Linked DNA regions of Homo sapiens: region 2 is linked to region 1. Evidence: fine-mapped expression QTL. A gene starts in region 1. The other region holds a variant in brackets. All regions are shown on one strand. Distances are from middle to middle. Region 1 holds the start of ZNF484 (zinc finger protein 484). Region 2 overlaps ZNF484 (zinc finger protein 484).

The links.
Region 2: its variant is fine-mapped to the expression of ZNF484 in whole blood (TOPMed, PIP above 0.99).

The regions. Positions count from the first base shown.
Region 1 is chr9:92,868,639-92,885,180 of GRCh38, forward strand. ZNF484 (zinc finger protein 484) reads right to left here and starts at 9,400. Exons shown (of 5, transcript NM_031486.4): 1 at 9,252-9,400; 2 at 6,377-6,421. The coding sequence starts at 6,391. It also overlaps the pseudogene SPATA31B2P. RefSeq lists enhancers at 9,155-9,690, 9,204-9,643, 13,979-14,496, 14,497-15,013.
Region 2 is chr9:92,844,938-92,861,479 of GRCh38, forward strand. ZNF484 (zinc finger protein 484) reads right to left here. Exons shown (of 5, transcript NM_031486.4): 3 at 11,255-11,381; 4 at 10,874-10,966; 5 at 1-3,614. The coding sequence ends at 1,291. Among named protein-coding and RNA genes, the nearest start is that of ZNF484, 25 kb to the right of the region's middle. The variant C/T (reference allele first, on the strand shown) is at 8,972.

The DNA of each region.
Region 1 (16,542 bases):
GGGGAAGAGAAGCCGGTGTGTGCAGAGATCATATGGCAAAAGAGGAAGAAAGAGAGAGCGAATGGGAGGTAGCAAGCTCTTCTCAACAACCAACTCTCACGGAACTCATAAGATTGAGAACTCACCACCTCCCCAGAGAGGGCATTAATCTATTCATGAGGGATCTGTCCCCATGACCCAAACACTTCCCATTATGCCCTACCACCTCCTACACTGGGATCAAACTTCTCTTTTATTTTTAAAATTTCTTTTTATTTATTTATTTTTGTAAGAAACAGGGTCTCGCCATATTACCTAGGCTGATCTCAAATTCCTGGCCTCAAGTGATCCTCCTACCTTGGCTTCCTGAATAGCTGGGATTACACACAAGCCACCGCGCCTGGGTTGGGGGATCAAATTTCAGCATGAGATTTGGAGAGGATAAATATCCAAACCATAGCAATAACTCGTAGGGGTTGTGACTGAATTAGTTAATAGAGAATGCTTATAGTGCCTGGTATATAGTAAGCACTATATTAATGTTTATATTATATTACTGTTATTATTTAGTATATTTTAATATATTGAGAAGGTATTTATATACCTGGGAAGACTAGCGATGAATTACTGATATGTATAATATATATTGTACATGTATGTATGGAAAACAAAACAAATGATTAAGCCAGACACTTATAATTTCAGGTAAAACAAAAAGCACTGCATAAAAAGTAAATGGCTCACTTGTGAATATTGTTAAAATAATCATCATAATAAAATGCAGCCTATTGATTTACCCCAAATTATGATATACCCATATTAGGCTGGGCGCAGTGGCTCACGCCTATAATTCCAGCACTTTGGGAGGCTAAGGTGGGCAGATCGCTTGAGCCCAGGAGTTCAAAGATCAGCCTGGGCAACATGGTGAAACCCCATCTCTACTAAATAAATAAATAAATAAACAAAATACCCATATTAGATGGAGGGTACATGAGAAATGTGTACGTGAGTGTCAAGGGCCTGAGTGTCTGAAAGAGAGCTAATTCCTTCTTTCCATTGTGTTGTCTGTAGATAACTGCTTAAAACTGAAAGCCTAGAAATACCAATACAAACATGTTATTTAGACATATGAAAGTAAACAGCAAAAGATAACTAAACTGAGTTCAAAGTGATTACCTTTGAGAAGCTGAAATTTGAAGAGGAATAGAGCAGATGACAACTGTTTTATTCTAAGAAACCACAAAGAACAATTTGACTAAGTAAATATAGGTAAAACTTTCATGACATTCAAAATGAAATACTTATTTTTAAAAGTTCAAATGCAAAGGACAAAGAGGCAGTTATAACTGACCAAAACGTATAAGACTATGCTTAATATATGAAGTCCTCTGTTCAAACTCAATAAACTGGATTCCACTCCTGGAAAGATACAGTAGATGCACTTGTCTCTATTCATCCTGTTAAGTTCATCTACAAACCATAGACATTATCCATCAAACCAACATACAGACTCTGAAAGGTAAAGAAAAATAGGCACCCTGGCTAGGGGCCTCAGGAACCAGGGAAGTAAACAGTAATAAGCTCTCTGTGTCTTTCGGCCTCATATAGATAGCTCTGACCAGGTGTTCGAAAAACCTACAATCCAGAAACATCAACAAGTGCATACAAAAAGGCCTGGAAAAAAGTGTTTTCTCTAGCTAAAAGACCAGGAAAGGGGCAACAGAGAAAAATAAAAAACTTTTAGACAAAACCTACTCCAACCAAATACCACAGATTATAAAACAACAAAAAACTGTGGGCTTGATTCATCTCTCATCAGCAAAGACTCAGTGGGTAGCCTAGACTCCTGTATTTGCCTGGCTGCCTGGGGATGCCCCTCCACTGCAATAGGGTAGTATGAGAAAAGCCAACTGGGGAGCTGGGACTTTCATCTCTGCACAGTGGTAATGGGTAGCTTTCTTGCCATGCCAGTGGGAGCCACCTCAGGGCTGGACTTCCATTCCTACCTAGCAGTAATGCGACACTCTTCCCATCACGACAGGTGTGGTGTGAGAGGATGTCAAATGAAAACCCAAGACCTTCATCACTCTGAGAGGTAATGAGGCCCTATCCAACCTAACAATATCAGAGAAGACAGCATGAAGAGCAGAAACAAGGTACCCTCTCCTTTCAGACAAGGTGATGTCACCAGAGGTCTACTGGGGAGCCTGAACTGCCAACCCCAACTAGCAGTAATGAGGTGTCTCTCTCCCCACAGACTGTCAACAGAGTTCAAGTAGGGAACCTGCAAATTCACATCCACCTGGCAGTAGTACAGCAAGGCCCCCCAATTCCCACACTGGCCCAGAGGACGCCTGCTAAAAAAGAGGACTCAAATAAGATCTAGAGTCTCATAATGCCCAAGGTTTCCACAATACATTACAAAATCATTTGTAAAACCAAGAACCAGGAAAATCTCAACTTGAATAAGGAAACAACCAATCAACCGATACTAAAACTGAAGTGATGTATGTTATCAGAATTATTTCATAAGGATTTTAAAGTAGTCCTCATAAAAATGTTTTAACAAGCATATGAACACACTTGAAACAAAAAAACTTCAACAAAGAAATAGAGAAGAGATGAAAAAACCAAATGAAAATTTTAGAATTAAAAAATAACCAATATTAAAAACTCAATAGATGGGCTCAAAAGAATGGAGGCAACAGAAGAAATATTCTGAGTACCTGAAAATAAAGTAGAAATGATCTAATCTAAAGAATGGAGAGAAAACAGACTGAGAAAAAAAGGAACAGAACCTCAGAGACATGTGGGACAATAACAAAAAATCTAACATTTGTGTCATTGGAGTTCCAGAAAGAGAAAAAGAAGAGAAAGGGATGGGGGCTGAACAAGTATTTGAAGAAATAATGAATGAAAATTTCTGAAACTTCCCGAAAGATATACACTTACAGATAGAAGCTGGGCAAATCTCAAAAAGGATAAAACCAAAGAAATTCACACTAAGGAAGAATTATAGTGAAACTTGTGAAAAATACAGACAAAGAAAGAATGCTGAAAGCATTCAGAGAGAAACTACACATTACCCACAGGAGAAAAACAATTTGAATGACAATGTGAGATACTAAGAACCATGGCTCCCCAAAGATGTTCACATCCTAATTCCCAGAAATTGTGAATATGTTAGGTTGCATGGCAAAAGGGAATTCAGGTTTCAGATCAAATCTAGGTGGCTAAATCGGCTGTCCTTAAAATAGGAAGATTAATTATCTTAGATTATCTGGGTGGGCTGAATATAATCACAAATTTGCTTAAAAGTTAAAGCAGGAGGGCCAGGCGCGGTGGCTCATGCCTGTAATCCCAATACTTTGGGAGGGCCAATGCGGGCGGATCGCCTGAGGTTGGGAGTTTGAGACCAGCCTGACCAACATGGAGAAACCCCGTCTCTACTAAAACATACAAAATTAGCAGGGCGTGGTGGCACATGCCTGTAATACCAGCTACTCGGAAAGGTGAGGCAGGAGAATCGCTGGAACCCGGAAGGCGGAGGTTGCAGTGAGCCAAGATCGCGCCATTGCACTACAGCCTGGGCAACAAGAGCAAATCTCTGCCTCAAAAAAAAAAAAAAAAAAAAAAAAAAGTTAAAGCAGAGGCAATAAAAGAGAGTCAGAGAAAGATGCGACTACAAAAGAGTGGTCAGAGAGATACAATGTTGATGGCTTTGAAGTTGGAGGAAAGGGCCACAAACTGAAATGTGAGCACCCACTAGAAGCTAGAAAAGTCAGAAAATAGAAACAGATTCTTTCAGGTTGCGGTGAGCCGAGATCGCGCCATTGCACTCCAGCCTGGGCAACAAGAGCAAATCTCTGCCTCAAAAAAAAAAAAAAAAAAAAAAGTTAAAGGAGAGGCAATAAAAGAGAGTCAGAGAAAGATGAGACTACAAAAGAGTGGTCAGAGAGATACAATGTTGATGGCTTTGAAGTTGGAGGAAAGGGCTACAAATTGTGAAATGTGGGCACCCACTAGAAGCTAGAAAAGTCATAGAAAATAGAAACAGATTCTTTCTTACAGCCTGTAGAAAGGAATACTGCCCTCTTGACACCTTGGTTTTAGTTCAGTGAGACCCATGTTGGCCTTCTAAAATATAGAACTGTAAAAAAAAAAAAGTTATTTTTAAGCAACTAAATTTTTGAATTTATTTCAGCAGCAATAGAAAATTAACATGCAGTTTTAACTAATATCTCATCAGAAACTTTGGAGGCCAGAAGGAAGTAGCACATTTTTCAAGTGCTAAAAAAAAAAACAAAAGAACTATCAACTTAGAATTTTGGATCAGGCAAAAATATCCTTCAGGAGAATGTGGAAATCAAGACATTCTCAGTCCTCCAAAAATTCGTATGTTTAGGCTGTAACCCCTAATGTAACTGTATTTGGAGATAGGGCTTTTAAGAGGTAATTACGGTTAAACAAGGTAGGGGTCCTAATCTGATAAGACAGGTGGCCTTACAGAGAGAGATTCTCTCTCCATAGGCAGGCAGGCAGGCAGGCAGGCGGTCACTAGGGAATGGCCTGTGAGCACATAGTGAGAATCTGGTTTTCGTCTACAAGCCAAGAAGAGAACCCTCATCAGAACCTGACCATACTTGCACCCTGATCTCTCAGTTCCAGCCTCCCAGAACTGTGAGAAAATAAATTTTTGTTGTTTATTCCACCCAGTCTATGGTACTTTGTTATGGCAGCCTGAGCTGACTAAGACAACTACTAACAGCTCTGCACACATAAATTTGACAACTTAGATGAAAGGGACCAGTTCCTGAAAAACACACAAACTACCACAACCCTCTCAATATTAAATAGACAATGTGAATAGCCCTGTAACACTTAAAGAAACTGAGTTTGTAATCTTAAAACTTCCAAAAAAGAAATCTCTAGGCCCAGACAGTTTCTCTGGAGAATTCTACCAAATATTTGAAGAATTAACATAATTAACATAAATTCTACACAGTTTTTTCCAGAAAACAGAAGAGAAGGGCATACTTCCCAGTTTATTGTGTGAGGCTATGATTTCCCTGACACAAAAACTGGACAAAGTATAGAAAAAGAAAACACAAACTATACACAATCTCTGGCAGAATAATCAATACAAAGGAACACATTCCAACTTATTTTATGAGGTCAGGGTTATCGTGATACCTAAACCAGAAATAGTACCAAAAGAAAAAACAGAAAGAGAGACAGAAAGAAAAAAAAAAGCGATATCCTTCATAAATATGATACAAAAACCCTTAACAAAATATTAGCAAATACAAATAATTTAAAAAGTATATACCACAACCAAGTGGAGTTTATTCCATGGATGCAACGCTGGTTCAATATTAAAAAATCAATCAATGTAATCTACCATACCAACAGACTCAAGAAGTAAAATCACATGATCATGTCAATTGGTACAGAAATAGCATTTAACAAAATTCAACTCCCATTCACGATAAAACCTCAAGGTTGTTTCAGAAGGTGGTCCTTGGACAAGGAGCATTGATGTTCTGTGGAAATTTGTGAGAAATAAAAATTCTCATATCCCATCCCATAGCTACTAAATCAGAATCTGAATTCAAATGCAAGTAAAGTGTCAGAAGCACTGTTCTATAAGACAGCAACAGAAAAACTGTTAGTGCACGTTCTTTCTTTCTTTCTTTTTTTTTTTTTTTTTTGAGACAGAGTTTCGCTCTTGTTGCCCAGGCTGGAGTGCAAAGGCGCAATCTCGGCTTACTGCAACCTCTGCCTCCTGGGTTAAAGCAATTCTCCTGCCTCAGCCTCCTGGGTAGCTGGGATTACAGGCGCCCGCCACCACACCTGGCTAATTTTTGTATTTTTAGTGCAGACGGGGTTTCACCTTGTTGGCCAGGTTGGTCTGGAACTCCTGATCTCATGTGATCCACCTGCCTCGACCTCCCAAAGTGCTGGGACTACAGGTGTGAGCCACCGCGCCTGGCCTGTTAGTGCACTTTCAGTAGGGTTGTTGTTGAAGACTGCTCTGTCATTAACCATCTGAAGATCTATCAAAAAATTCCTCAAACATCAAGAACCATGACATCTTTACTACAGATGAAATAAATTACTTGTTAATTTTATTAATATAAACCATGTATCCAATTTCCATTATTGCTATGTCTTTCAGGAAGATCAGAGACAATTTAACAGTTCAAAGTTCATGACTGTGTAAGACCATATATTCTAAACTTGACTTGGGGCTGACAGTCTCTTCTTCATTTTATCTGATCTTAGTTTTTATTTATTTAGTCTTGTCATCTTACTATAGGGATTGTTAGATGTCTCCTAAAATCCACTAAAAGTAAAAGAAAGCAACAAATAAACAGATGAACAAATAAGAACTCACCAGGGACTTGGTCATTTTTGGCTCTTCGGACAAAGGGGCAGAAATCTGAGAAAACAGATGGGTAGAGGTACCCATGAGAGAAGGAACTGTGCCAATGTCACACATGGACACATACATCATTTAGTGCCCTTGCACCTTACTCAAAAATTTATTTCTGGAACTACCACATTAAAATATCATCCCATCCCATATTGTACAAAGATTTAAGTGCAAAAGTTTTACCATAACATGGTTAATAAAAAAGAAAGATTAGAAATGTTTAGATATTCAATAATTGTGGATTGCTTAAATACTTTATAAAATATCCAAAGGATATACTGTTCTATTACGTTATTATACTATCTGATTTCACAGGCCCTTCAAGTTATCATCAACCCTGGTACCTAACTCCTCACTACCACTCTTCAATCTGCTCTAAGTGTCAATTGGTGCCCAGAGACTACTCCCAGAAGCCATTACTGAAACCTCAGATTCACTGATTTCCATGCCTTGCTGCCCCTGAGCCAGGCCTGCATCACTCATCCTACAATACCTGATCACAGAGTCTTCAATTCCTCTACCCTAATGGTCCTGGCTCTCTACCAATCAATCCCACATCCCCATGACTGGCCTCTATGCCTGTATGACTACCGATCATGCATCTCCATCAGCCATCCCAAGAGTCCCAATCCTAGGCACACCTGTTTCTGCACTGGGGCCTTAGCACACATACACATCTCCCACCACTGACACAACTAGGCTATAAGCTCCTCCACATACACAAACAGGAACTCAATCAATGAACAAATCAGGGGAAATTCTTGCATGTATAGAATAAATTTATAAATAGAAAACACTTCTAAATCTAATTGTGAAAAACCAGACTATTTACAGAGGAAAAATGAAGGAAATAAGAAAACTCTTCATCTGCAGTACTGAAAGCTAAATGATGTCGGAAATAGCATCTAAAAGACCACTTCTCTGTCAGGGCCAGAGAGACATTTTCAGAAATAAAAGCACTTGCAGAGTATCTCTATCTTTGAGAGAAACACTGGAAGAAGTCCAAATAAATGTAAAATGAACCACACAATAAATCTTGAATAGGAAAATATTGTTTAGCAATAATTCTTGCAAAAGATATATAATTATAAAAAAGGACAATGTGACAATGTGATAAAGAGGCCACTAAAGAGAAAATTAATAATACCCTATGATAAAACATTCCTAATAATCTCAGGAAAAAAACAGAAAAAATGGGGTGCAGAATGGAAACAATGAGCAGAAATTTCATCAATCCAATGAAAATATTATGTAAAGAAAAGGCAGAAAATAAAAAGAGCTAAATAGTAAACATCAAATGGAAGGCATAAAATCAGATAAATCATTATCACACTAAACTGAGATGTAAAATTCTATCAACAGAGACTATAAATTGGATTTGAAAAAAGCAAAAGTATCTATTGTAAACAAATAGGTAATCTGACACAGAGACAAATAGGATACAAAATAAAGCTCTGGGCAAAGACATCATCCAAATGCAATGAAAGTAAAAACAAGGGTGGCAATGTGAGTATCAACGTGGAATTCGATGTTAAAAAGTGTTTTTCTTGGAATTCGATGTTAAAAAGTGTTTTTCTTTTTTCTTTTTGGTTGAAAAAAGGGATCCTATAATAATACCACTTAATACATGAAAAAGGATAAAAAATGCACTAACCATTAAGTGTATGTATGCCCATCCCTCAGATGCACAAATAAAATTAGCAAAAAAGCACATATAACTGCAAAATGAACTATTAAAAGTGATTTTTATTGTATCTCCTCCAGAATATGAAACAAGTAGATCAAAATTAGGAAAGATAAAGATTTGAAAAATACCAACAAGCAAGACTTAATTAAAGAGAATTTTGGTCCATACAACAAAATATAATTTTTCTTTTATATCTGTTGAACAAAGTTCATTGAGTAACTTGGCTTCAAGGAAAATCTTGATAAATTGTTAAAAGTTGAGACTTGATAGTCTGCATTTTCTGACAATACAATAAAATAAAAAACAGCTAAAACATACTTTAATAATTTGGGAATGAATAAACTCTCCTAAATAACTAAGATTCAAAGGGAAACATCAAAATGAACTTATGCATTTCATAAAGATGTACTTAAAGAAACTTTACAACCCTAAATGTATCCCGCATAAAACTTAAGAAAATAAGGGAAAGAACAACAAATTACATCAAAAAGTGGGAAAAAGAGAAAGTACCTAAAAAGAAAAAGAGAAAAAAATTAATATTAAAAGAGTAGGGAGTATTTTATTGGACATTTCAAAATGTCCAATGAAACAGATAAACCTTTCAGACGCTTGATTCTTTTTAAATAGAGAAAGAATGAATGATATATAAATATAATAACCGTAATGATAAAGGAGCTACTAGTCTGGATATGAAAGAGAACAAAATGGAAATGGAAACATGCAATTCTATGTAATATATTCTTTAAATCTTTAGCAAAATATATCATTATAATGAAACAGAAACGAAAATATAAACAGATCGGTACGTATAAAAGAGAGGAAACTAATTAAGATGTGCATCATTCACACTCCTCAGATCCCTCCTTAGTTCCCATAGTCATCCTCCCCCACAACCCCACAGTCCGCCCTCACTCCGCCCTCAGATCCACCACCAGACAGAGACCCCCAGTCCGTCCTCACTCCGCCTGCAGATCCACCACCAGAGACCCCTCAGTGCCCCCTCACTCCTCCCTCAGATCCACCATCAGAGATCGCTCCGACTTCCACTATTCCATCCACTGACCGACCCCATCACTGACCGGAAGGCTCAGGACAGACATCAGAGATTCTTCTTGCTCAGTCCACAGATGCTGCCATCCCTCTACTCACCTGCCCCTCACCCACGTCCTCTCAGGACAGTGGTCATTTGCCTCGGGAGGTGACTATAGTCGCAAGAACCAGAACAGGACCCACTTCCTTTTTCTCAATGCCTCCCAGGCCTAGAGGTACTTCTTACAGCGCTGCCTGGGTTTGCGCATGCTCAGCAGTCTTCATGGCCTGAAGGTTGCCAGTAATCAACATGGCGCTTTGCCAAACACGCTCCCGTTTCAGCGGCTTAGGCTGGGCGCCAGTATGGCGGCGCCCATGTAGACACTCTGGCCTGTGGGCGGCCATGTTGAGGTCATGTAGAGACTGAGAGGCTGAGGGTTGTCCAAAGGAAAGGAAGCAAGCAGAGGTGTGTCCCATCATACTAAGCCAGGACACAATCAAAGCCTATCACCTCAGGTTACAGTCTTTCTCCAATGCTTCTGTGGACACAACAACACTGTTAATCAACAGGAACTAATCAGCATTTATGTAACACCGCAAACGCAGCCGAATACACATTTTATTCGTGTCGATGGGACATTTAGCAAGATATGAAGTAACCTGGGTCATAAAACAAATCTCAGCAAATTTGAAACAACTGAAATCATACAGTTTGTTCTCTGAACACAATAGAATTAAACTAGAAATCAATAACAGGAAGATAAAAGGAAAATCTCCAAACACGTGAAAACACATGCTAAATAATCCATTGTTCAGAGAGAAAGTCTCAAATTTTTAAAATACATTGAAATGAATGAAAGTGAAAGTGAATGAATTTTTAAAATACATTGAAATGAATGACAGTGAAACACAACATATCAAAATTTGTGGGATGTGGCTAAATCAGTGGTGAGAGAAAAATGTATATACCACTAAGGGCTTACATTAGAAAAGAAAAAAATTTCAAAGCAATAACCAAGCTCCCTCACATACTAGAAAAAGAAGAGCAAAATAAACCGAAGGCAAGTGAAAGAAAGGAAATAATAAGGATAAGAAGATGACTCAATAAAATGTAAAAAGAAAAATAGAGAAAAACCGATTAAACAAAAGCTGGTTCTGTAAATGTTAATAAAATTGACAAATCTGTAGAGGAGACACAAAATATCAATATCCAGAATGAAACAGGAGATACCACTGTAGACCATGACGAAATCAAAAGAATAAAGAGAATACTACAAACAACTCTACAAACATAAATTTCACAACATAGATGAAATGCACTAATTCTTGAAAAAGCACAAATTCTCTCTTACATGAAATAGTTATGTTGAATAGCCCTAGAACTGAAGTCATAATTTGAAATATCTGAAAAAGAAATCTTAAGGCCTGGATAGCTAGATCAGAGAATTCTAACAAACATTTAAAGGTTAACACGAATTATATCCAGTCTCTTCCAGAATAAAAAAAGAATAGAAAGAAGACAATAGAAAGATATTCCAACTCATGAGGCCAGTGTTACTCTGATATCAGAGCTAAAGACAGAAGAAGAAGAAATCAGTATTCTTCATGAATATAGATGGAAAAATTCTCAACCAAATAATAGCAAAAATAATTCAACAATATATAAAAATAACTACAAACCATGAACAAGTGATATTTATTCCAGGAATAAAAAGCTGTTTTGGTATTCAAAAATCAATTTGTGTAACCCCCCACATTAGCAAGCTAAAGATAAGCATATTACATGATTATATCAATGCAGGAAAAGAATTTGAGAAAATTCAACACCCATTTATAATGAAAAAAAAACTTTCAGGAATTAGGAACAGAGGTAAACTTTCTAACTTTTAAGTTAGAAAAAAATCTACAGCTAATGTCAAACTAAAAGATGAAAAAGACTGAATGCTTTCCTGTTCAGTTTGGGAAGAAGGAAAATATGTCTGTGCTCATCATTTTTATTCTACACAGTTCTGGAAGACCCAGTCAGCTGACAAAAATTCTCTCCATAACCAGACTCTAGCCATGCTCCTTTGAACTCTCTTGTCAACTAAACCCTGGCTTTTGGGCTTTTGTGTTGTCTGTGAATTGCCCAATATTAGTAAGAATCCTAGCAAGGCAATTTAGTCAGAATCCTCCATCTTCGTATCTGATCACCATTGATATCTAATTGGTTTTCTTATTGTCTACTATCCCCAGGTGATATCTGATCACTCTGGCATGGCTTCAGCAAGAATTCTGTGAGGTCAGTTTAGCCAGATTCCCTCCTATTAGTAATTTTCCGTACACTACCACCCCTCCACCCTGCTCTGTGGCTATAAAATTTCTATTCAGAGGGAAACCTGAATATATGGAAACTGGAGATTACTGCAAGACCCTATTGCAGTAATCTCTATATCTATTGCAATAATCCCTCTGAATAAAGTTTGTCTTACTATTTTTTAACAGGTGTCACGAATAGTTTTTTCTATGATACAGCTCAACAAAACAAGTCTGAAATAGAAGAATAAAGTGGGAGGAATTATTCTACCCAATTTTTTAACTTTTTACGTAGCTACAGAAATCAAGACAGTGTGGTATTGGCAGGGGTATAGACAGTTCAATAAAACAGAATTGAGAACTCAGAAATATTTCCATACAAGTACAACCAACTGACTTTTGAAAAAGATGCAATATCAATTCAATGGTACAGTGGTTCTGGAGCAGTTAGATACCATAGACAAAACAATGAACCTCAATCTAACCTCATGTCTTTATTTAAAAAAAAAAGGATCAGCCAGGCGTGGTGGCTCACGCCTGTAATCCCAGCACTTTGGGAGGCCAAGGCGGGTGGATCACGAGGTCAGGAGATCGAGACCATCCTGGCTAACAAGGTGAAACCCCGTCTCTACTAAAAATACAAAAAAATTAACTGGGCGTGGTGGCAGGTGCCTGTAGTCCCAGCTACTGGGGAGGCTGAGAGAGGAGAATGGCGTGAGCCCAGGAGGTGGAGCTTGCAGTGAGCTGAGATGGTGCCACTGCACTCCAGCCTGGGTGACAGAGAGAGACTCCCTCTCAAAAAAAGAAAAAAAAAGATCATAGATCTCAATGTAAAAATATGAAATTTAATGATAAATTCTTCAGGTCCTAGGACTTGATGAATAATTATTAGACATGACACCAGAAAAGCACAATTAATTATAAGAATTTATTAATTGGATGTTATCAAAATTTAAAACTTTTGCCCTGCATAAGAGCCTGTTAATAAAAAGACAAGGTAAAAACTGGGAGAAAACTGCAAACCACACCTGATAAACCATATCTGACAAAGAGGTCATATCTAGAATATTGTTTAAAGTTTTCAAAAGTCAACAACAACAACAAGGAAAAACAATCCAATTAGAAAATGGGCTAAAGGCATGAACAGATATTTCACTGAACAGGATATATTGATGGAAAATGAGAAAATAAAATAACTTTTATCAGAGGAATGTCAGTCCTTTTAAATTATCAAGCCCAGAGAGACGTTAAAATAAGACAGCAGGCCCCATGCGGTGGCTCATGCCTGTAATCTCAGCACTTTAGGAGGCCAAGGCGGGCGGATCACGAGGTCAGGAGATCCAGACCATCCTGGCTAACACGGTGAAACCCCGTTTCTACTAAAAATACAAAAAATTAGCCAGGCACGGTGGCAGATGCCTGTAGTCCCAGCTACTCCGGAGGCTGAGGCAGGAGAATGGCGTGAACCCAGGAGGCAGAGCTTGCAGTGAGCCAAGAGCGCGCCACTGCACTCCAGCCTGGGCGACAGAGTGAGACTCTGTCTCAAAAAAAAAAAAGGAAAACTGCATGTCCTGCACATGTACCCCTGAACTTAAAATAAACACATAAGTACATAAATAGAATTTAAAAAAATCTTAATTGTATGTGGGTAGGTCCCTTTGATTGAAAGTGAGATAGAAGGCTGGGCGCAGTGGCTCACGCCTGTAATCCCAGCACTTTGGGAGGCAGAGGCGGGCGGATCACGAGGTCAGGAGATCAAGACCATCCTGGCTAACACGGGGAAACCCCGTCTCTACTAAAAATACAAAAAGAAATTAGTCAGGCGTGGTGGCGGCGGACGCCTGTAGTCCCAGCTACTCAGAAGGCTGAGACAGGAGAATGGCTTGAACCCGGGATGTGGAGCTTGCAGTGAGCCGAGATCAGGCCACTGCACTCCAGCCTGGGCGACAGAGAGAGACTCCTCAAAAAAAAAAAAAAAAAAAAAAAAAAAGGAAAGTGAGATAGAAATAATTTTTTTAAAACTTACTATTCAAAATTTGCAAAACTAAATAAGAGTAAAAGAACTTTACATTTTGTCCCTGGATTGATATAAGACAAAAACATTGTGTGGGAAAGCTGGAGTTGAGGACAAATGAGATTCTGAGAATAAAAATCCCTGGTACATAGCCAAAATTTCAGAGTCAACTTCAGATTTTCAAGGGCCATAAAATAGGTAACCTCAAGCCACCAACTCCAACAGATAAAAGGAACCAGGTAATATGTGTTCCAGGGAGAAAGAATAGAAAATTGGCTGAGTTCTATCACTGACAAAACTTAGCGGGAAGGAGAGATCTGGAAGGTGGGAAGGTGGAGGGATCCCCGGCTTGGGGGGTGGGGAGGGGCTGTGCTTCGGTCTCCCCCTCCTACTGCCCCTCCCCAACAAAGGAGCCCTTTGTGATGTGAAGGCCCAGCTCTGTGATGCAGGCCTGGGCCCCAGTCCCTAGCCTCCACGGGGATGCCCAGAGCTCAGTTGCTTGAAAGCAATGCACCTATTCACATGGAGAATCTTCCCTTTCCTCTAAAATTACTTAGTCCCTCATCGCTAAACACCCCCAGCTCCACACCATGGGTGTTGGATATCTTCCTCACCTTGGTGTTTGCCCTGGGGTTCTTCTTCCTATTACTCCCCTACTTATCTTACCTCCATTGTGACGATCCACCCTCACCATCGCCTGGGAAGAGAAAGGTAAGGAGCCCTCAGTCCAGACCCACAGAGCTTGATTCTCTCCTTCCTTTTTATTATTAGTTCCACTTTTCCAAATCCAGTGGAGGGACTTCTGCGATGGGAAGTCTCAGGAGAGACCGGAACATCATGCTTCCAGGGAGAGGCAGGGCAGCCAGGGGTTGGTAGGGGTAGATTGTGTACAGGGATTTCCATCCCAAGCCCTCAGTCCATCTGTTGGGGAGCGCAGGAGGCGTGAAGGCAAAATCAAACCCGTGGGCTCAGCGGCCAGGAATGGTCATGAGACGGGGGAGGTCTCTGGTCATGAGACAGGGGAGGTCTCTGTCCGAGGCCAGGCCCTAAGCCCTGGCTCATCAGCCCCTTCCTGGGGCAGGTGGCTTGGGGCCCAACCTCCTCTGTGTGGGGTGATATGGGGCCTGTGCTGGGCCCCCAAGGGCCTCCCACCGGGGCCTGGCATCTCCTCTTGTCTCCTGGGAAGCAGAATCCTACCTGACAGCTCAGTGGTGCCTGTGGGCCTGAGCCTGGGTGTTCCAGGAGCAGAGGAACAGGGACTGATGGCGTCCATGGTGGACCTCATATTGAAAATCCCTCTGTGTGTGTCTGTGTGTGTGTGTGTGTTATTTTTATTTATTTTATTTTATTTTATTTTTTGAGATGGAGTCTCACTCTGTTGCGCAGGCTGCAGTGAAATGGAGCGATATCTGCTCACTGCAACCTTTGCTTCCAGAGTTCAAGCTATTCTCCTGTCTTAGCGTCCTGAGTAGCTGGGGATTACAGGTGCCCGCCACCACACCTGGCTAGTTTTTGTATTTTTAGTAGAGACAGGGTTCCACCATGGCCAGGCTGGTCTCAAACTCCTGACCTCAGGTGATCCACCCACCTCGGCCTCACAAAGTGCTCGGATTATAGGCATGAGCCACCGTGCCTGGCCCCCTCTTCCTGTTTTTCTAAGAAGAAAAGCAGTTTATCATCCATTTAAACATGAATGGGAGGAAGCACACAGAGCTCCCTGAGCAAGACAGAGAGAGCCATGCGGTTCATGAGTGCAGAGTGCTGCGGCTGGGCTGGGGGTGGAGAGGGAGAGCCGGTCCTAGCTCCTCGCCATTTCTTGTCTCCCAGTGTCATCTTGTCTCCTCGCGTCATCTTGTCTCCCAGTGTCCAGTAGGGCAGAGGGGGATGCCCAGAGGCAGGATGAAAAACCACAGTCTTCAGAGGTAAGGCTCTGCCAGGGCACACTAGAGTTAATTTGATCTCGTCTGTCCCTGAGGGAACTGACTCTGAAGAAGTCAGTTGAAGAAGCCTGAGGTGGGGGCTCCTAGGAAGGAAATCAGAACCCCGGGTCCTTCTCAGATTCCATGCCGGAATGAAGCCATGGTGGGCCAGGGACTGAGCGTTACCCAGCAGGGGGCAGTGTGTGTGTTCTGGGGAGACCAATGCCTGCCTGGATGCGGAGGGGGTTGAGGGGGCCTCCCGCTCCCTGGGAACAGCTGTTCAACTCTGCTAAGGCTGATTCCTCTTTGAGACCACCCCAGTCCTTTCTCCACACAGGGCAGTTGTGAGGACTATGGGGGTGGGGGGCCTGTTTGTGGAAGCCCTTTGTGAATGACAAAGCCCTGTCCTCCATGCCTTGCTATTACCATCGGGGCCATGTGGCTTTGGACACAGATGGGTGGGTTCCAGGGTCTAATTCCCCATGGTCTTCCCTGAAGAAACATACACTCAGCCTCCTGTGAGATCCCAGGCCCCTCCCTCACTGCCCTAACCCGGTCTGATTTCCAGCTTGTAGAGAGTGCCTGAGAGGCCTGGAGGAGACTTGGGACCTGCTTTCACAACTGCAGAGGTGAGGCACTTCCCCTTCCCTGCATCCTTCCTACCAGGGCTGGGATGCGACCTCAGGGCCATAGGCAGCCTGGAGCTGACCTGGGATGGGGAGACCAGGGGGACAGAGGATGAGAGTAAAGGCCTGGGGCAAGGGGTAGCAGGAGAATTGGGCAGTCAGGGTGTGGGGTGGTGGAGGGGCTGTGGCCCGAGCGCCCACTCTGACCTCCGAATCCACCTGCTCCTGGCTGCAGCTTGTGCCTCCTGTCTCCTGCAGCCTCCTAGGGCCACACCTTGAAAAAGGTGACTTTGGTCAGCTCTCCGGTCCAGACTCCCCAGGTGAGGTGGGCAAAAGAGCACCTGATGGAGCCTCCCGGTCCTCTCATGAGCCTATAGAAGATGCTGCTCCCATTCTCTCCCTGTTAGCTTCCCCGGATCCTTGAACCAAGCATCCTCAGGATCTGGCCTCCACCCCACCACCAGGCCCAATGACCACCTCAGTCTCCTCCCTAAGTGCCTCCCAGCCACCAGAACCTTCCCTTCTCCTAGAACATCCCTCACCCGAGCCACCTGCAC
Region 2 (16,542 bases), 24 kb before region 1:
AGAATCCAAATATACAAAATTAATACCATATAAGAGACAAATAAATGAAATTATAATGTTATAACTTCTCCCCTTGTCCAGAAATGTTAGTACTAATTTACATTAGCTTTTAATCCATATGTATATTAGTATCTGACATAGTACATTTAAGGCAAAAAATTACTAGAGATAAAAAGAAACATCTAATAATGATAATGTGTCAATTAACCAGGAAGATTACAACAATTCTAAATTGTATGTAAAATCAAAGACAAAATATATAAAGCAAAAATTAGTAGCTCTAAAGGAGACAAATTCACAATTATTTGTAAAATTACAACACAGTTCTTTCAGTATTTGATAGAAGAAAAGACAAAAAAGTCTATTCAAATACAGAGAATTTGAAAAACAAAATTAATTAAGATTAGTTTGTAGAGATTGTGAGGAGATAAAAGGAGAAGTCTTCCAAATGTTCAACTACATTTTATCTTCTAAGGACACAAACTAAAATTCAAGATGCTTGTGTCTCATGGTAATCTAGCAAGTAACGAACATGTAGAGAATGTACTAACAAAATTAGTGGGAAAAAATTTTAGGATTTGATATCCATTTTCTTAATTTGTCCTATTTTTCAAACAGGAGTTGGTAACAACAACATCAAAAAAGTGCAGGTTTCTGTGGTGAAAGCTGAGGATCTAAAGTGCTGCTATCTAGACCTGGGTCCCTGTATCTAAGTTCCATGATCGTAGGGCCAGTTCTAAGGTAATAATATAGACTTTTGAGAAATAGGCAAAGAGCAATTTCAGACCTCTTGGCTAACTGCTGCCCCAGCATACGCCAACAGATATAACAATAAATAATGGTGACTTCCCAAAGAAAATTTTAAAAAAAGTAGAGTCCTTTCTTTCTGTCTTTAGTGTTTTCACAAAAACTGCTGATTCACTTTCATTATAGACCTAAATTGCCCTCTCTTTGCCTTGATCTCAGTGTCCTTAGGCTGCTTAGACAATGTAAAATTATCTCATCATACTACTCATTATGAATTTTTGCGGGTCAATATTGAATAGTTGTGGTACCCAGAACATGAAAAACTCAACAGCCATGAATTTATAAAACTGTTTGCCCAAAAAGTGAAACAAGAAAGACTGCCAATCATCTCCTTGCACATTTACTATTATTTGCAGGAGCTTGACAACACCAATATCAAGTAACCAAAGATGGCCACTATACATTGCTTAAACACTCTCAAAAGTGTCTCCCCATATGTGTAACTACACATCAGCTATATGATCCAGATGTTCATAATTCTAACTAGATAGAAGAAAGTTGGCCTTGGTCACCTTCTGAGTCCCCACACCATAATTGTGGCATGGAGCACTCTACTTCCCCATTGTCAGATTTCTGAGGCATACTGAGTTGTGGCTTCCAGTTTAAGGCTTTCCCCAAGTCACTGCACTTATAGGGTTTCTGTTTAGTATGAATTTTCTGGTGTTTAATAAGATTTGATCTGATGGTGAAGGCCTTTCCACACTCAGCACATATATATGGTTTCTCTCCTGTGTGAATTCGATGATGCTCATGGAGTTGTGATTTCTTAATGAAAGACTTGCCACAGTCACTGCATTCATAGGGTTTCTCTCCAGTATGAATTCTCCTGTGTCTATTTAAGTGTGACTTCTGGATGAAGGATTTCCCACATTCATTACAAATATAGGGTTTCTCTCCTGTATGAATTCTCTGATGCATAATTAGTGTTGATTTTCTTGCAAAGGCTTTCCCACATTCACTGCACTCATAATGCCTTTCTCCAGTATGGGATTGCTGATGTATATGGAGACCTGACTTCCTAGTGAAGGCTTTCCCACAGTCACTACATTTATAAGGTTTCTCTCCAGTGTGAATTTTCTGGTGTGTAAAGAGATTTGATCTGTCAGTAAAAGCCTTTCCACATTCAGCACACCTATAGGGTTTCTCTCCTGTGTGAATCTGCTGATGTACGTGGAGCTGTGATTTCTTAGTGAAGGATTTCCCACAAATACTGCATTCATAGGGTTTCTCTCCAGTATGAATTCTCTCATGTGTAATAAAATGGGATTTGTGGAAGAAGGCCTTACCACATTCAGTGCAAACATATGGTTTTTCCCCTCTATGAATTCTCTGGTGCATACTTAATGTTGACTTCTGAATGAATGCTTTCCCACATTCACTGCATTCATAATGTCTCTCTCCAGTATGACACTTCTGATGTATCCTGAGCCGAGACTTCCAGGTGAATGATTTTCCACAGTCGCTGCATTTATAAGGTTTCTCTCCAGTATGAATTTTTTGGTGCTTAATGAGATTTGACCTGTCAGTAAAGGCCTTACCACACACAGTACATATATAGGGTCTTTCTCCTGTATGAATTTTCTGGTGTATAATGAGATTTGTCTTGTGAGTGAAGACCTTCCCACATTCTGAACATATAAAGGGATTCTCTCCTGTGTGAATTCGCTGATGCACATGGAGTTGTGATTTTTTAATAAAGGATTTCCCACAGTCACTGCATTCATAGGGTTTTTCTCCAGTATGAATTCTTTCATGTGTGATAAAATGTGACTTCCGGATAAAGGCCTTCCCACATTCAGTACATACATAAGGTTTTTCTCCTGTATGGATTTTCTGATGCATACTTAGTGTTGATTTCCTTGTGAAAGCTTTTCCACATTCAGTACATTCAAAGTGTTTCCCTCCAGTATGAATTTTTTTATGTATATTAAGGTTTGAATTCTGAGGGAGGTTTTTCTCACATTCACTGTACTCATAAGGTTTTTCTCCAGAATGAATTCTCTGGCATCTGAACAGATCTGACTTCTGGATAAAGGCTCTTCCATAGTCACTGCATTTATAGTAATTCCCCTCATAAGGAGTTTTCTGACGGTTTGACTTGAGGGAAAAATCCTTCTCATATTCAGTGCATATTCCTGCATAAACCCTCTGACTGCCATCAAGCTGGGACTTCTGAGTGAAGACTGCCTCACATTCATGGCATTCATGCTGCTTTTCTTCAGCACAAATACTCTCATGTGCAAAGGCATGTGACTTCGGGGAGAAAACATTTACGTAGTCAGAAAACAAATAGAGGCTCTCTCTAGTATGAATTTTCTGTTGTTGAATGAGAGCTTGCTTATGATGCAGAGGTTTCCCACATTGGTTACATTCACAAGCAGTCACTTCTGTATGAGAATTCAAATGAGTGAAAATATCACCATCTCCAATAGTCTTATCAGAATTTTCTGTTGCATTGTTTCTATTATATAAGGTTATGATAGGCTCCAAATTCTTTCCACACGAGTTACAGTTATGGGGTCTTTTTCTTGAGGAAACCAGGTGTGTGTTTACATGAACTATTTCCCCAATGTCCTTATATTCAAAGATGCTGTCATTAGCTAGTGTTTTCTTGTTAATGAAGACAACACGACTTAAAGGTTTGTTCTGGTTTTCTCCACATTTTCTTGTGTGTTCATCGTCTTTCCACAATTCTTCTAAAATGGAATATGGGTCATCTCTTGTGAAGAGATTAATATTAATCTCAGACTGGAAAGAAACTTCTTCAGACATCCTCTGTTGTAAAGGTCCAAAACCAATGTCCCCATCTAAAAAAGAAAGAAAAGATAAGACTGACAAAAAGAACAATTAACAGAAAATAAGGCCAGGTGCGGTGGCTCATGCCTGTAATCCTAGCACTTTGGGAGGCTGAGGTGGGCAGATCACTTGAGGCCAGGAGTTTGAGACCAGCCTGGCCAGCATAGCAAAACTCTGTCTCTGCTAAAAAACACTCAAAATATTGTCTCTACTAAAAATTAGCCAGGCGTGGTGGTACATGCCTGTAATTCCAGCTACTCAAGTGGCTGAGGCAAGAGAATGGCTTGATGGCTTGAAGGCAGAGGTTGCAGTGAGCTGAAATTGCGCCATTGCACTCTAGTCTGGGTGACAGAGCAAGACTCTGTCTCCAAAATAAATAAATAAATAAATAAATAAATAAATAAATAAATAAATAAAAATACAATAGACCTTTGATTCAGGCCGGGTGTGGTGGCTCACGCCTGTAAGCCCAGCACTTTGGGAGGCTGAGGCAGGCGGATCACCTGAGGTCAGGAGTTGAAGACCAGCCTGGCCAACATGGAGAAACCTCATCTCTACTAAAAATACAAAATTAGCCGGACATGGTGGTGCATGCCTGTAATCCTAGCTACTCAGGAGGCTGAGGCAGGAGAATCACTTGAACCCAGGAGGCAGAGGTTGCGGTGAGCCGAGATCTTGCCATTGCACTCCAGCCTGGGCAACAAGAGCGAAACTCTATCTCCAAAAAAAAAAGAGTTGATTCAAGGCAGACACAGAGATATGAGAGAGACTATATAAATATAACAAATGTACATAAGTATTTTAAATATACATAAATATATAGGTATAATAACTCATTTATATATAATATGTAATACAATGATGTAGAGTAATAATATTAATACTAACATTTATAACATGATAAACAATATCATTTAGATGTGCTGTTCTAAGTTCTATATTAATTCACTTAAACTTTATCACGGCCCGGTGTGGTGGTTCATGCCTGTAATCCCAGCACTGTGGGAGGCTGAGATGAGAGGATTGCTTGAGCCCAGGAGTTTGAGACCAGCCTGGGAAACATAGTGAGACCCCCATCTCTACAGAAAAATGAAAAAACAATTAGCTGGGCCTAGTGGCACATGCCTATAGTCCCAGCTACTTAGGAGGCTGAAGCAGGAGGATCACTTGAGCCCAGGTGTTTGAAGCTGCAGTGAGCTCTGATCGCACCATTACACTCCAGCCTGGGTGACAGAGTGAGACTCTGTCTCTCTCTCTCTCTTTTTTTTTTTTCTTTTTTAAGACAGGGTCTCACTCTGTTGCTCAGGCTAGAGTGTAATGGCATGATCAGAGCTCACTGCAACCTCCACCTCCTGAGTTCAAGGGATTCTTGTGCCTCAGCCTCATGAGTGGCTGGAACTACAGGCATATGCCACCACAACTGGCTAATTTTTGTATTTTTAGTAGAGACGGGGATTCACCATGTTGGCCAGGCTGGTCTCAAACTCCTGACTTCAAGTATCTGTCCGCCTCGGCCTCCCAAAATGTTGGGATTACAGGCGTAAGCCAGCAAGCCCAGCCAAGACCCTGTCTCTTAAAAACAAAAACAAAAAGCACTTTATTGTAACCCTTTGCTGTTGGTATTATTATTGTTTCTAGTTTACAGATGAGGAAACTGAGCCACAGAAGAGTTTAGTTAAATTTGCCCAAATCAAATGTTTAGTAATTGGGGAAGAAGAGATTGCAATTCAGTGCAAATGTAGTAGAACTACATGGTGAGTGAGGTGTCAGAAGAACAAAGTGATAAACTCTGTGAAAAGAAGTATTTCTGAGTCTAGATTCTTTTCCTTAATCTGTAAATCCTCACAATCTTCCTGTTTTCTCTTCTCCCTATGATCCACTGTGCCCTAAATACCAATGTATTTATGTTTACAGTAAAATTACGATATCTTAGTCATCCTAACTTGGCCAAACAGAAAAATTTATATACATTTGTTATATTTATATAGCCTCTCTCATTTATCTGTGTTTTCCTTGAATCAACTCTATGTAACAATTGGTCTATTTTCTTTTGAGATGGAGCCTCACTCTATCACCCAGGCTGGAGTGGCTGGAGTGCAATGGCGCGATCTCGGCTCACTGCAACCTCCGCCTCCCGGGTTCAAGCAATTCTCCTGCCTTAGCCACATGAGCAGGTGGGACTACAGACATGTGCCGCCATACATGTATTTGTAAAAATACAAATTTTTGTATTTTTAGTAGAGATGGGGTTTCACCATGTTGGCCAGGCTGGTCTCAAACTCCTGACCTCAAGTGATCTGCCTGCCTCAGCCTCCCAAAGTGCTGGGATTACAGGTGTGAGCCACCGTGTCTGGCCTATGGTTCAATTCTTCATCCCTGGTTTGGGGTACTGATGTGATAAATGCATCTGGTAGAAGACATAACAGGAAAGAACTAGACATCAGAAGAGAAGACTGAAAGTTGTTCATCAAACCTGTGCCCTTCCTTCACAATATTAAGCTTGTAGCCAAGCACATGGCTGCTTCACAACACTAGGTTTGTTCAGCTTCATTTGTCACTAGGTGGCACTGAGTAACTCTTTTTCACTCATCAGTGGAAGTGATAAGGCCAATGTCTTAAGAAAGTGGGTTTGTCTCCTACAAACCTCTTCTTTTCCCACCAGTATATTCCAACTTGGCAGCACCCAGTTCTATGAAGCTGGCAATGCCCTAGGGCAGGGGTCAGAAAACTGAAGCCCTTGGGCCAAATCCAGGCCTCTATCCAAAAGCTAACAATGTATTTTACATTTTTAAATGGTCAAAAAATTAAAAGAAGAATACTACTTCACGACATATGAAAATTATATGAAATTCAAATTTCAGTGTCCATAAAGTTTTTATTGGAACACAGCCACACCCATACATTGATGTATTGTCTATAGCTGCTTTGGGGCTACAACTGCAGAAATAAGCAGTTGTGACAGTAGCCATATGGTCCACAAAGCCTATTTACTTTTGTGCCTTTACAAAAAATTTGTCAGCCCTTGCCCTAGGGGATGGTGGTACAATGACTTTCTAGAAACTTTGTCCCTGAACGGCCATGGAAACAGAGTTGCCCGGTGTTATGGCCATCGAAAAGGGACTAACACACATCTTTCCATTAGTCACTGCAGTCTATTTTATCAATGAACCCAAACATACAGTCTTTTCATTTTCTCCATTTAAGCTTCCTTTTTCTGATCTTTTGTTTCTATCAAAAATTCATTGTTCTTCATTAATCATTTGGGGTTCTCTGCTTTAAAAGCTAATTTCAAATTTCACCACAACTCTAGAGAGGCTCTCTTTTAACTTAAAAACAAACAACAAAAAGGTACTCTGAACCACTCATATTTATATTTGAATTGGCATAGATGTGCACGTTAACAAAAGTGTAATGCACAAAGACTGAAATTTTCAAGATTTCATGCAGTTATCCTCTTTCCAATTAGTTTTTCTAGCCCTTTGAATTGCTCCTAAAAGAAAAATTTTAAAATCTTTCTGAAATAGAGCAAAACGACCTCCTCTGCTTATAACACAAATTCAGGAATTTAATTTCACTATTTTCTACAGAAACTTTGCATTTTAATGTACAAGAGTAAAAGCCTCAGTTATCATGTAATTTAATGTAGGTTTCTCTGAATTTCTGGAGGTTGTATGCTGCAATAGGTCAAATTCAAGGAGTAAGTGAAAGCTGAGCACAAAATATGTGTATTATTTGGTTTTTTGTTTGTTTTTGTTTTTGTTTTTGTTTTCTGAGATAGAGTCTCACTTTGTTGCCCAGGCTGGAGTGCAGTGGCACGATCTCGGCTCACTGCAAGCTCCGCCTCCTGGGTTCACACCATTCTCCTGCCTCAGCCTCCCAAGTAGCTGGGACTACAGGCGCCTGCCACTATGCCTGGCTAATTGACCTTGTGATCCACCTGCCTCAGCCTAAAGTGCTGGGATTACAGGCGTGAGCCACCACGCCCAGCCTTTTTTTTTTTTTTTTTTTTTTTTGAGACGGAGTGTCGTTCTTGTCACCCAGGCTGGAGTACAGTGGCGCGGTCTCAGCTCACTGCAACCTCCACCTCCTGGGATCAAGTGATTCTCCTGCCTCAGCCTCCTGAGTAGCTGGGATTACAGGCCCCTGCCACCTCGCCTGGCTAATTTTCATACTTTTAGTAGAGATGGGGTTTCGCCATGTTGGCCAGGCTAGTCTCAAACTCCTGACCTCAGGTAATCCACCCACCTCAGCCTCCCAAAGTGGTGGGATTACAGGCGTGAGCCACTGTGCCCAGCCAAAATATGTGTATTATTTGAATACGCAGATAGATAACATAATAATCAAAGGGCTCGATGAAAAGGGAGAATTAAAGAAAATCTTAAAATAGGATAGAAATGGTTATAGAAAACAGGGACAAATGTGAATTGCAAATATGAGGCCATATTCTTTCTCTAGCTTACAAACCTACTGAGAGGAGAATCTGTCACATGTTAGATATTAAGTAGTAACTTTAGTTTTCTTCCATGTAGCTATGACAGGATAAACACAGCACACAATGTTTTAAGTAGTGAAATCTATCAGCAGCATCTGAGATGAAATAGTGAAAAAGAAAGAATGGGATTATCACATACAAATAGGATTAGAATAATCTAGGCATGAGAAAACACAGACATGGTTGTAGGTGATATGACTGGGAGGTAAGAAAGAGGCTTTTGTAAATGAGAAAAATAAGTAGAAAAGCAGAATGAATTATCTGAGAAGATGGATTAGAGGGAAAAGTAAAAAAACTCCAAGAGAAGATGACAACATTTTGAAAGGCAAGCCACCTGCTTTTACATGCTACATTGTATCTTGTCTTCCTTCACACAAACAGCCAGACCCTTAAATGCAAACAGTATTGGTCTTTCCCCTGAGTGCTGTATACAATAGGGCCAATGCCTGACTGAGACACACAAATAACAGTCACAGAGTAAAAGTTGTTCCCATGAGCCAATTATCACTCAGAGCTTATGCTGCAGCTGAGACACATAATCTAAGACACAGATTATGCTGGGCTGAGACACATGGACCTGGGCAACTTTAAGGAGGGCCCAAAGCCCTTACACCTGCCTCTAAATGTCCATGATAACTTCTAATGTAGGTTAGTTATGTATAGGACAGAGGCAAAGTGCATACTTGCCAGCAGGCAGTATAACCAGTTGGGAAGAGGAGAAAGACCCCTGTGGGGGTGGTCATTGCCTTGACATCCTGCTTATTGCCCCAGCTGTAAATGACCTGCAAGGAGAAATGGACCCCACCCCAAACTTGGTTCAGATGTCAAGAGTGACGATGAGACACACACAATAAGAGGGTGTAAAAAGATTTGTTA[C/T]TCACATAATGAGGCTTTCTGGGGACAGCTCCAAGCAGGTCCAGATGGGGCTAGAGTGAGCAAGGAAAGGACTGTCTTGGGAGTTTATGGCAGGGGCGGGTGGGGCTGGGCTAACTATTCCCTTATGTAGTTGGAATTTCCCAGCAACAATGGAGGGAACTCATGGGCTTTTTTCTCAGTTTGTCCAGGAAAAAAAGAGAGAGAGATGAGGCTTAGAAAACATCAGCAGTTGAACATCAAAAATGAAGGATACAGAATGAGATGTTCAAAGTATTTTATTAGGGAAATACAAATTAAATAATAATTAGAAATTAAAACCCATCAGATTAGCCAAAATATTAAAAATTTGGATAATACTAGGTATGGGTAGGGATGTGGGGAACTAATACCCTTGTACAAAGTTCCAGGGACCGTAGAGTGACACAGCCAATCTGGAAAATAATGTGCTTATACCTCATCATATTCAATATTAGTATGCCCAATGATAAAGCAATCCCACTCCTCTTCCTTAAGAAATTCTCATTTCCGGCTGGGCGTGGTGGCTCCCGCCTATAATCTCAGCACTTTGGGAGTCCAAGGCGGGTGGATCACGAGGTCAGGAGATCGAGACCATCCTGGCTAACATGGTGAAACCCCGTCTCTACTAAACATACAAAAAATTAGCTGGGTGCAGTGGCGGGCGCCTGTAGTCCCAGCTACCGGGGAGGCTGAGGCAGGAGAATGGCGTGAACCTGGGAGGTGGAGCTTGCAGTGAGCTGAGATCATGCCACTGCACTCCAGCCTGGGGGACAGAGCGAAACTCCATCTCAGAAAAAAATAAATAAATAAATTATCATTTCCAGTAAGAATAATTCATGAAGAAATGTATTGCAGTACTGTTTGTAGTAGCTGAAAAACTGGACAAGTAAAATGGGGTATATATGTGCACTACAGAATGATATGTAGAAATTAGAATAATGCACTGCAACATGGACCAATTTGAGAAAAAAAAACTTGAGTAGGATATATAATACAGTACCATTTCTACAAATTAACAATGCCAACAACTCAGATTTTATAAATATCCCAGAAATTCAAGGATAAATGGCATAACATGTCAAATATATTAGAACAGTTGCCTCTTGGAAGGATAAAAATGAGTATGGAGACTGAGGATTAAAAAGAATAAATAAGAGGGGAGCCTTAAACACATTGATGATGATATTGACTAAAAACTAAGGCTATAATTATTAACTCAATCTTCTGTACAGGATATACCTGTACACTAGATAAAAAACTTTGTGTAAGATATGAAAATAAATAAATTAGAAAGATCAAGTCAGTGTTGCGTTGCACTAGCCAAGTAGGAAGAAAATGTCAATGGTACTCTCAAAGTCAACAATCAGAGAAGAGGCATGGGGGGACTTCAGACAAGCCCATCTCTAGATGACAATTGTGAGGCACTAAGGGGAAAGAGACAAAATGAGAAGAAACAGCAGGAGCTGAAGTTGTAATGCATAGTAATGTTTTCAGAAGGTAGATCTATGAGTATTTGAATGCATAAGGAAATGATCTAAGACCTTGATGGAGGTAGAAAGAATAAAACTTTTCTAGGGAAAGAGAGAAAAAAGCAAGAAAACAGGACCCTAGAAAGTAGAGTGTGACATGATCCAAAGAACCAGTAATTGTAGCATATTCCCTCCTAAAAAGCCAAGCAAAGAAGAAGGCATTGATATGAGAAGGGATCTTAAGTGGGGTTAGCATTTAGCTATCCAAGGGTCCTTGTCTAATAACTGCTCTTCCAAGCAGTTCTAAAAGTCATTATTAATGACACATCAAAGTTGGGCAAAGTTGGGCACAGCTTCTCCCAGTACAAATGCAGCTGAGTCATACTGTCTACCATGCTCTTGGTTCCCTTCTCACCTGGACGGCTCTGACTGGGGATCTCACCATCCAACATACATGGCTCTTCTTGTTCCAAGCTGAAGATGACTTCTGGTTTGGGAACTTGACATCCTGTTAACAGGGGATGATAGAGGACTTGATTTCAGAGGCCATACAATGAAGCATTCCATTTTTTTCCCAAAAAAGTTCACTGGGAACAGAGGAATATTCACACTACCCGAAAGAGATTATTAAGAACATGGGACAAAATAAGGACAAAACCATTACACACTTTAGATGTCCTGCAGTCTTTAGAAGTCCCACATACCTCAGAAAACACAGACTTCAGCAATTCTACTGAGAAGAAAAATATACTCAATTAGGTGCAGCCTACTCTATACCCAGCAGAGCCGTGCTTACCCACTGAGATCAAGTTGAAATAGTTTTCCAGCATCACTTCTCTGTACAGGCTTTTCTGAGCAAGGTCTAATTGTTGCCACTCATCCCTACTGAAGTCTACAGTTACGTCCTTGAATGACACTGATTCCTGTTAAAAAAAAAAAACAAACTTTAAAATAATTTTTTAAAGAATATATTTGAATTCAAAAAAAAAAACCTTTCAATGTGAAGGATCGAGATTACAGAATGGAAACAAGATAGGACCTTATTTTTAATGTGATACAATATACTATAAAGAACTTCTACAATTCAACGACAACGAACAAAATAATTTTAAAAATGGGTAAAAAGCTTAAATAGACATTTCTGCAAGGAAGATATACAAATATTTAACAAGCACATGTAAAGATGCTCAACGTCATTAATCACTAGGGAAATGCAAATTAAAACTACAAGATATTACCTCACACCCATCTGGATGATAAAGAAAATGTCTAAAATTGATTATAATGATGGCTGTACAACTGAGTGAATACACTAAAAATCAATACATGGTACACTTTTTTTTTGAGACAGAGTCTCGCTCAGTCGCCCAGGCTGGAGTGCAGTGGCTCGATCTCCACTCACCGCAAGCTCTGCCTCCTGGGTTCACGCCATTCTCCTGCCTCAGCCTCCTGAGTAGCTGGGACTACAGGCGCCCGCCACCACGCCCAGCTAATTTTTAAAAATTTTTTTAGTAGAGACGGGGTTTCACCGTGTTAGCCAGGATGGTCTCGATCTCCTGACCTCGTGATCCGCCCGCCTCAGCCTCCCAAAGTGCTGGGATTACAGGCATGAGCCACGACACCCAGCCTAATATGGTACACTTTAAATGGTAAACTGTGTGGTGTATGAAGGAGAGGGCTCTTTTTCAGCACTGCCATTTCCAGATGAGATGCAGTAGCTTGGCAGTCCAGTGCTTCCTTCAACAATGAACTGTAAATGCCAGACGCAATACTTGAAATCATCTGTTTCAAAGCACTGGAAAGCTGCTGAGGTAGCAAGAAATATAGGGGCTAAGACTGGAGAGGAGAGAATATTAAAGATTGAAGCTGACTTATTCAGTCACTCTGACAGTGGGAGCATTTACCAATTCTGGCTGTGGACAAAAGCTGAGAATCCAGCTTTTGTCCTGGATTCTCATTTTGTCCTGTCTACTGGAGAATGCAGTAGAAGGCTGCAGCTGGGTGACAGAGAAACCAACATAACTCAAACACATGGCCATTTTCCCCTCAGGATATTTGCTGAATTCTAGGGTATATAGGGCAGTAGACTAAAAATGTAAGCAAACAGCCTTTGAAGAACAGAGCAAAAGTCTAGTATCTGTTAAGAAAATAGTTGGGCATCTATCAGGAAGAGGGTCTTTAGAGGACAAAAGGGCTCTCAGCTGAAAATTCTCAGGAGCCAGGGTGATCCAGAGGTAAAGTGAGTCTTAGCAGAGCTTCAACCCGGCCTTATTTCAACATCAACAGTGCCTGACTGGATGTACGTGTTCTCCCTTCCCTCCATTTGCTAACATAAGGAAAGATGAATCCTCTGTGGAGAAAGATTTTTTTTTTCTTTTCTTCTGAGACAGGGTCTTGCTCTGTCATCCAGGCTGGAGTGCAGTGGCACAAACACGACTCACTGCAGCCTCGACCTGGGCTCAAGCAATCCTCCTGTCTCAGCCCCACAAGTAGCTGGGACTACAGGCACATGCTACCATGCCCAGCTAATTTGTCTATCTTTTGTAGAGATGGGTTTTGCCATGTTGCCCAGGCTGGTCTGGGACTCCTGAGCTCAAGTGATCTGTCCCCCTCAGCCTCCCAGGTATGAGCCCTGCCTACAACTTATTATACACAGTGTTTAAAACAAACAAAAAAATCCTACACATCCAAAAAGATAGGACCACATATCCAAAATCAGAGAAGGAAAAAATTCAATAGAAACAGTCACACAGAGAATTGGAGTTAGATGAAAAGAGGACTATCTTTAGAGAGTTGGTTCTTATAATAAAGAATCAAATGAAAGTTCAAAAATTGAAAAATCTAAAATCTAAAATTAAGAAGTCCTTATGCAGGTTTAACAGCAAAATACAGAATTTCTGAAATGGAAGACAAGTAAATAGAAAATATCCAAACTGAAGCAGAGATTTTTTTTTTAAAGAAAAAAACATAGGAGCATTAGGAATATGTGTGACATAGTAAAAAAGGTATAACCTATCAGAGTCTGAGAAGTTAAAGAGGAGAGTGCAGGGAAAAAGCAATATTTGAAGAAGTAATGGCTATGAATGTCATCAACCCTTAGGATTCAAGAAGCTCTTCAAATACCTCTTTACAAAACTGCAAGTATTGACTATGCAAAACAGTAACAGTACTATTCTGGGAGGTTTAAAATGTATGCAAAATTTAAAATAATGGAAATAATAATGCAAAAATGGGAGGCAGTAAATAGAATTAAAGTGTTTTATAAAGTATCCTAGCATTATTAAGGAGATAAAATAGTAAGTTCAAGATGAATGTTTTAATATCTGGGGTAACAAACAGTAAAAGAATTATAACAAGTAAACAAAGGAAAAAATTAAAGAGTAAAAAAATTATGTAATATAAAAAGTCAAGAAAGGAATGAAAAAATAGGTAGTTCAAATAAAAACTAGGCCGGGCGTGGTGGCTCACACCTGTAATCCCAGCACTTTGGGAGGCTGAGGCAGGCGGATCATGAGGTCAGGAGATCGAGACCATCCTGGCTAACACGGTGAAACCCGGTCTCTACTAAAAATATAAAAAAATTAGCTGGGTGTGGTGGTGGGCACCTGTAGTCCCAGCTACTCAGGAGGCTGAGGCAGGAGAATGGTGTGAACCCAGGAGGTGGAGGTTGCAGTGAGCCAAGACTGCACCACTGCACACCAGCCTGGGCAACAGAGCAAGACTCCATCTCAAAAATAAAATAAAATAAAATAAAAACTAATAGTAAGGTGGTATATATAAATTCAAGTATATCAGTAATTACATTAAGTGTAAATGCATTAAACATCCAAGTTAAAAGCAAGGATTGAGACTTCTGGTTCTAAAAAACAAAACAAAAAAAAGAGTGCATTCCACCCAATTCCTCCTGCTAATTACCTAAAAATCTAGAAAAATACATAAAGCATCTGTCAGAAGACTCACTGGTGGAGAAAAGAAAGTAGAACCTAAGGACTTAAAAAACAACACAGTAGTGAGTTAGTTCCCTAGAGGGAACTTAGAGGGAGAGAGGGAGCTCCTACATATTGCAAAATGAGTACTAGAGGAGCTTGCAACCTGGAAGAACCAATGAGCACAGACAAAAAAGGCCTCCCCAAAGCATACATTTTCCAGCCAAATAATTTGAAATAGGGCAGCAATGCAGGATGGGACCTTTTGACTACACATACCTACAAAGTTCAGAAGTACCCAAGAACACCCTCACTTCTGACACCTACTGCAAGCAGAGGGATTTCCCAGGATCACCTGTACTTCTGACACCAATTCCAAGTCAGGGGTCCCCAGGACCACCCTCAGGTTCCACAATTCACAGAAGAACTCACAGAAATTAGAAAAGCCATAATACTCATGGCTATGGTGTTATATAGTGGCTTTACAATGAAAGGATACAGATCAAAATCAGCCAAGGGAAGATGTGCTTAGTGCAGTGTCAATGAGAGTTCCAGGTGTGAGCTTCCAGTGGTTTTCTCCCAGTGGAGTCATATGGACAGCACTTACTTCTCCCAGCAATGATGTGTGATGATAATACGCATGGAGTATTGCCAACTGGGGAAGTTCACTTGAGCCTTGATGTCCAGAGTTTTTACTGAGACTTGATCATGTGGACATGAATGACTCCCACTGTGGCTGATCTTAGTCTCCAGCCCCTCCAGAGCTGATATTGCATGGCCAAAGGTACCCCACTATAAACCACATGTTGGCATAGAATATTCAGTGTGGCCCAAAGCTCCCACCATAAATCACACTGTCATTATATACTATCTTGCATGGCCTAAGCAAGGCCTGCAGGACATTCCAAAGATTTAGAGGTTACCTCCCAGGAGCTGAGTGCAAAGGCCAAACCTCTCTTTGGGCAAAGTTAATCCTTTACTGCACAACAATATACTTGAGGCCAGGCGCGGTGGCTCACGCCTGTAATCCCAGCACTTTGGGAGGCCGAGGCAGGTGGATCACGAGGTCAGGAGATCGAGACCATCCTGGCTAACATGGTGAAACCCCATCTCTACTAAAAAAATACAAAAAATTAGCCGGGCATGGTGGCGGGCGCCTGTAGTCCCAGCTACTTGAGAGGCTGAGGCAGGAGAATGGCGTGAACCCGGGAGGCGGAGCTTGCAGTGAGCTGAGATCACACCAGTGCACTCCAGCCTGGGCGACAGAGCGAGACTCCATCTCAAAAAAAAAAAAAAAACAACAAAACAAAACAAACAAAAAAAAACCAGTATACTTGAGGTGAAAACTACAAAAGATGCATCCTTTGCCTTCTTCACAAACAATGTGACTCCAAAGATGGTGGGGTGGAGCTCTCTCAATCATCCCAACTGCATTAGCTCAAAGAGAGGTAGCACCCCTCTTGCCTCTCCAGCAGGCATTATATAGACTGTATTGGCTAACCCTACCCCAAATTAAGTGAATGACAGCAAAGAAGAAGTAGCTACCTTCTTCCAATAGAGAGTGGAGGATGGATTATGGAGAAAGTTATAAAAAGGGGTTCTTTAAATACATGTATGATGACCTGGGCACACCTACGAGCAGCCCAGATATAAAATGAATCAGAATCAACATAGAAAAAGCTTTCAGGGCTGAACTAGGGTGTGGGATACTGTCCAGGTTTCAAATTAGCTTCTGGGTAGCACAAAAATGAGGGAGACCAAAATAGAACTGCAAAGACTTTCAAAACTAAGTTGAATTTGAAATACAGCCCATAAAAATAGACCAAGACATGCACTCTAAACCTAAATGTGTTGACAACTGCTAAAATAGAGGATTTGAAGAGAAAACAGAATCTCATAACATGATATTCAGAATGTCCTGAATAAAGCCAAAATTATTCATCATCTTAAGAACCAAGAAAATCTGAAATCAAATGAGAAAAGAGCATCAACAGATAGCAACACTCAGATGAATCAGATGTTGGAATTATTTGACAAGGATTTAAAGTAGCTAACTAAAAGTGTTGCAACAAGCAGCTGTAAATAGTGTTGAATCAAGTGGAAATATATAAATTCTCAGCAAAGAAATAGAAGGTATGAGGAGGAACAAAATGAAAAT